2 separate regions of the Homo sapiens genome follow, and region 2 is linked to region 1. A link means that fine-mapping ties the variant in region 1 to the expression of a gene that starts in the linked region. Tissue or cell type: skeletal muscle. Region 1 holds a variant in brackets; the other region holds the start of a gene. All regions are shown on one strand. Distances are from middle to middle.

Region 1 (2,751 bases):
TCATGGGGAAGAGACAGACCTTGAGCGAGGGCTACAACCTCAAATCAGGGCTGCATGGCCACTTGCCACCTGGGCACTCTGGGCCTACCTCCAGATATTGCAGGCCACACCCCTGCCAGGTAGGAAAGGAGCCATTTTATTTTCCTGCTCTCAGAGGTTACGAAACCAACCAAGCAAGGCAAGTCGGCCATCAGGCTCAGCCTCCCATGAAGCGCTCCTGACTTCCCACCCTTCCTCCAGGCCAGGAGTCTGCCAATCACAATCTGGGTTCTGTTTTCCCGCCTTTCCTGGCAGCACAAACCACGGCTCCGGATGGTGAGCAATGCAAGTTCCAGGCATGCCTTGCTGCATTACTGGGTTCCCAGGTGTCACTTCATCCAGAGGGTGAGTCCTTCACAGGTCTGTGGGCTGATAAACATGCAAATTTCCCCACGCAAATGATGTTAGGCCGTGGCACCTTTCCCACTGAGAAAGCGCCCTGTCAACAAGCTGGGAAAATGGGTGAAAGCCCATGCTTTGCCCGCCCTGGGTAGCACACACTGGCCAAGAATCTGGGCAAGGCCCCCTGCAGGGGCAAGCGCACATCGCACACTCCCGCCTCGAGTCCCTGCGGGAAGGCAGGGACTTCCGCAGGCCTGTGGTCTGGCTTTAGGGAAAAGTCCATTTGCTCACTTGATTCCGTGGTGTTTCCACGTGAGCGCAGCTGTGTGTGTCAGCTGATGTGTGTGATCTGAGTGGTTTCTATACCGTCGTGGAAACCCCCAGCCCAGTGGTTATGGACTTTCTTGGGGCCTCAACTCTCCCCAAGAGCGTGATCCTCACTACGGGGGAGCGGCGCTTTATCCGGCGGGGCGGGTGGACACTCCTACAGACCCACTTTGACCCATTTTCTCACAGTTTCCAACCCAGAGCCGCAGGGACAGGGGCGGACTGCGTTTCCTTCCCTGAGCCCTCCGCAGAGCCTCTGGGCAAGGCGGGCAGGGCCCAGGCTGCAGCGGGGCCTCCGGCCCGAGGCGCCTGCGTGGGAGCCGACCCTAGGCGCCGGGAGCCCCGGCGGGAGCTCCAGGGGGTGCGGGCGTTAGAGAGGGCTAGGGCCGCGCCCAGGCGGGGTGCGGGGAACCCGGGAGATGAAGCCGCCCAGGGGCGGGGGTGTTTGTCACCAAGGTTCTGAGGGGCCGTGGAAGGTTTTTACCTGTTTTCATTGGGAGCAAATAACAAAACTAAAAGCGATGGAGGAGTGGGGCTGCAGAAATGGAAGCAGCAGTGTGGGGAAGCCGGACGCTTCCCGGGGAAGAGGGAGAGGGGACGCTCAGATCCAAAAGGCGGGCTGGGAGCGGAGTGGGGCAGCCGCCGGGGGGCGCCCGCAAGGGCTAGGGCTCGGGGCCGGGTTTGGGGGCGGGTAGGGGCGGGCAGGGGCGGGGCAGGAGCCGGGGCTGCGAGCTGGCCGCGGCGCAAGGAATGCGGCCTTTGGCTGGTCCCGGGCCGGCATTCCGGCCGGCGCAGGAATGTGA[G/A]CAGGGTGTTCACTGCGCGCTCTGAGCGCACAAGTTTGTTCTCCTCTCCTTGGAGAACGCCGGCCCGCTCTGTGCCACCCTCTCCCCAAGCCCCCGGTACGTCCGTCTGTCCGGGTGGAGGACAGGGCCCCGAGGGCCGCGACCAGGAGGGACTCGCAGGAGGCACCGGACAGGGGTGCGGCGAGACCAGTCGCGCTGGAGGAAAGGAGGGAAGCCCGCAGTGGTCCGCTGAGGCACTGAGAAAGCCAGGCCAGTAGCTCAAAGAGGAGATAGGACGTGCCCCTCTCCATCATCAGCCTCAAGGGGCACAGGGTTCAGATCCCAAAATGTGCCCATTTAGGGGGCACATTGTGAAGGGCAAGACCTGGGGAGAGAAGAGGGAAAGCGGACAATCTAGTTTAGGATTAGGTGCTTTCTGATCGGCCAGGGAGTGACTGAATACCTAACAGCATTTAACTCATTCAACAAATATTTGCTGAGCCTCTGCTCCGTGCCAGTTCCTGAGATTAATTCTGGGGGCACAGAGGTGAAGTCATCCTGTCCTTGAGGGGCTGACATTCTGATCCTCAAGACAGTCTCTGAAACACCGAGGGAGAGTTGGGGGAAGCCCAGGGTGTGGGGGAACACCGAGGAATAACACAGATTGGGGGTGGAGATCCAGGAGGGCTTCCTGGGAGAAGCTGCAGAGTGACACGGAAGATCAGTAGGAGTCAGCCCAAAAGATGGGAGAAGAGTATTTTAGACAGAGGGAACCTTATGTGCAGAGGAAGAGCCTGTGCTGCGATTGGCCCCCAAACAGAGCATAAGTCTGCTCCTGGCCTCTCCCCATGCCTGCCAAAGGCCCAGCTGAGTCACAGTAAGGGTCAGGGTGTCCATCTCAGTCCACTCATGATGTTGGTTGGTCTATGGAGCCCCTCTTCTGCGAGAGGCACAGCAGTGGCCCGTGAAGAGTGAGAAGAGAATCAGGACTCAGCACGCTGCTGTGGGAGTATTGTGGGGACTGATAGATAATGCCCATAAGCATCTGGTGTGGGGCCTAGCACCTAGTAGGCGCTCTGTGTACATTGGCTGGTCTCTCAGCACCTTGCCTGATTGACTGACTCCTCTTCCCCTTCGTAGTACTGATTTCTGGTTCCGAAAAGGCAGCTGTCCAGCTCTTCATCCCTGCGGAGGGGCCTTCCCAAGGGGAAGACCATGTGGGTCTGGTCATGGAACTTCCTGCTTTTTGTCCTTCCCTGAT
Region 2 (2,751 bases), 61 kb after region 1:
TCTCCAAGGCCTCTCATCGCGAATTTGTCCCGGCCAAGCCCCTCAGATTCACGTCCTTTCAGACATCAAACGCCTGGGCCTTTACAAAAACCTGCTTCCGCGCCCCCGGCCGCGAACCTCTGCTGCACTCGCCCGCTGCGCTCTCTGAAGGCCGCCTTTCTAAGCCAGCGCGCGTCTCCAGCCTTGGCCTGGGCTCCTGCTCGCCTAAGGAACCAAAGACAGTCTCCAAGCTAGGAGGTTCTGGCACCCCAGCCAGGGCTCCCGCCCCACCACGAGCCCGGGCGGACCTGGAGCACCGGTGGCCGCTGGTACGCCTGGGGCGAGCCGGTGAGGGTAGCCCGAGGCCCGGAGAGGTCTTTAAGCATCGCGGGTCCGCCTCCCTCCCTCTCGAGCCCTCTTTGTTTTCCAAATACTCTAACGCTGACGTCACCGGGCTGGACAGCAGGCTGCATTCTTTCTAAGTGAGGGCCAATTCGTGGCTCCAGAGAGGATTTTCCAAGGAAGACAAAGAGGAATTCTTGGACTAGTTGGGGGCAAAGGCACCTGTAACCCCCACCTAACCAAATCAGCCCGCAGGACCCTGCAACTTGAGCTCCAAGCGGCGCCTCCATCCCTGTCCCCCGCCACCCCCACCCCCGCCGACCTGCAACCCGAAACACTGTGGCTGTTGTCTCCGGAGTCGGCCCTCTCCCCTCTCCCCCAGCCCCAAGAGACCCGCGCGTTTCTAGAGCCCCGCAAAGCCCAGCGCGCTGCGCTCCCTGGGCAGAGCGGCCCTTGCCAGGCACTGCGGCTGCCTCGAAAGGGCGCACTGCGCCCCGAGGACGCTCGATCCTCGAGGCTCCGACTCCCGGAAAAGGCCGGGTTGCGCCGAGACTCCAGCTTTGGCTGGGGCACGTTTCTGTGGCCTCGCGCGCTCTCCCGAGCGCCGAGCGGCCTTCCTTACCGCTGCGGCCCGAGGGTGCCCAGCGCAGTCAGACACCACAACCTCCGGCTCGGCCCAGCTCAGCTCGGCGGCGAAGATGTGTTCTCGGCCGTGGCGCCGACGCTCTGGCTGTTCGCGCCCCAGCGCGCAGCCCCAGGGTCGGCCCGCGCCGGAGGCGGCTGCTATGCCAGGAATGTGAGAGTTTCAGGTTCCCCCTCGGGATCAAAGCGAACCACAAATAACCTCTCAGCGCACCGCCCTCCTCCGCCCTCCGCCTTCTCCCGCTCCCTCCTCCCGGCCCCCGCCTTCCTCCGGGGAGGCGGCGCTGCTGGCCGAGCGCCGGCCCGGCCCCCGAGCTCCGTTCCTCCGCGCCCAGCGCCCTCCAGGCCGCGGTGTGTCCGCCCCTGCCCCATGCTTTGCCTTCGGAGCTGCTGGAGACAATTTAATCCAACTCTGCCCATTATCGCCTCCACTCCCAGTCGCCGACCCGCTCTCACCCTTCATCCCTAAACCCATCGACGGGACGACAGCAAGGGCTGTACCACGCGTGTCCTGGGGTTGCTGCGGGAGGGGACTCCGGCTGTGTGTGTGTGTGTGTGTGTGTGTGCGTGTGTGTGTACCGGGGGAGGTGGGAAAGGGAGGAGGGACTGCAAAGACATCCATATCCTCTGGGCTGGGACAGTGCCCCGGGCTAAGTGAATGCTTCCAGCCACAGAGCCTCTTTCCCCTAACCCCCGCTGTTTTCACCCCCAGCGGCAACCTTTGAATGCACTTTTGTTTACAAACACCTTCGCCAGCTATTTTACGACCGTCTCGACAGGAAGTGTGAATCTGGGTTGGAAAATCCGGTCAATTTGACCCACCTACCCAACTGAATCACCCGCCGCCAGGCGCTCTGTCCAGTTCTTCCCCAAGGTGATAATAGGCGCCCCTTTACGCAGAGTGCAAGGTGTGCCACCGCTGGCTTTTCGCCCAGTCATCCGATTCAGCCCTGCCAAGCACCCTCCAACGGAGTTCTGTTATCATCCCTGTGTTGTAAATGAGGACACCAGGGCTCAGAGAGCTTAAGCAGCGTGCCCAGAGTCACACACAGTGAGAACCAGGTAATCAACCACTGGGCTGCTTGGTTTCTCATTCTCAAAACCCCTCCCTGGCTATCAGAATCCAGGCTCCCTAGATGGACAGGGCAGACACTGGGAGCCCTCCTCTCTCCACTTACCCTGTCCTTGCTTTAGTCTCTTCTTTACCTCCCCCTACACCCCTGCCAGCCAGGGGCTTTCCCCTGTACCCACTTCTGTGGCTCCTGCATGGAATCCTCTCCTCTGCCCCCAGGACACTTCCACTGCTAGATGGAAACCCCTTCTTCAGAAAGCTCGCTCTGACACATGCTGTCCCCGTTCCCCATCACACAAGCCCTCTCTACAAGTCAGTTGGGGTGAGGTGGGGGCAGTCAGGCCCCTGTCCACCCAGAGAGTCAGGGCTGATTTCTACCCCTGGCTGGGTCCTCCCATCAGCATGGAGTTTGCAAGTCCCAAATTCACTGGAGGGAAACAAGGACAAGGAAATTCTGCAAGCTTAATTGCCAGGGACATTGTTAATTTTTAATAAAACTCACAAAAAGTGTGTGTGTGTGTGCGCACGTGTGTGTTTTACTTGGAAGTCAAATACTGTGTTTCAAACAGTGATTGGATCTGAGATGATTGAGCAAATGGATCATTTGTGCCAAGCTACGGGATATTTGTCTTTCCAAGGATCCCCTTACGAAGAGAAGCTGTGATCAGTATACCACTGTAGGTAGGAATTTTAGAAGTGAAAGGAAAGAGGTCTCT

The links. PIP is the estimated chance that this variant, and not a neighbour inherited with it, causes the effect.
Region 2: it holds the start of AMOTL2, and the variant in region 1 is fine-mapped to the expression of AMOTL2 in skeletal muscle (GTEx, PIP above 0.99).

Annotation. Positions count from the first base shown.
Region 1 is chr3:134,312,011-134,314,761 of GRCh38, forward strand. LINC02004 (long intergenic non-protein coding RNA 2004) reads left to right here and starts at 1,566. Exons shown (of 2, transcript NR_146711.1): 1 at 1,566-1,607. RefSeq lists an enhancer at 1,705-2,278. The variant G/A (reference allele first, on the strand shown) is at 1,512.
Region 2 is chr3:134,373,399-134,376,149 of GRCh38, forward strand. AMOTL2 (angiomotin like 2) reads right to left here and starts at 1,049. Exons shown (of 10, transcript NM_016201.4): 1 at 944-1,049. RefSeq lists enhancers at 309-1,108, 1,109-1,908, 1,909-2,706.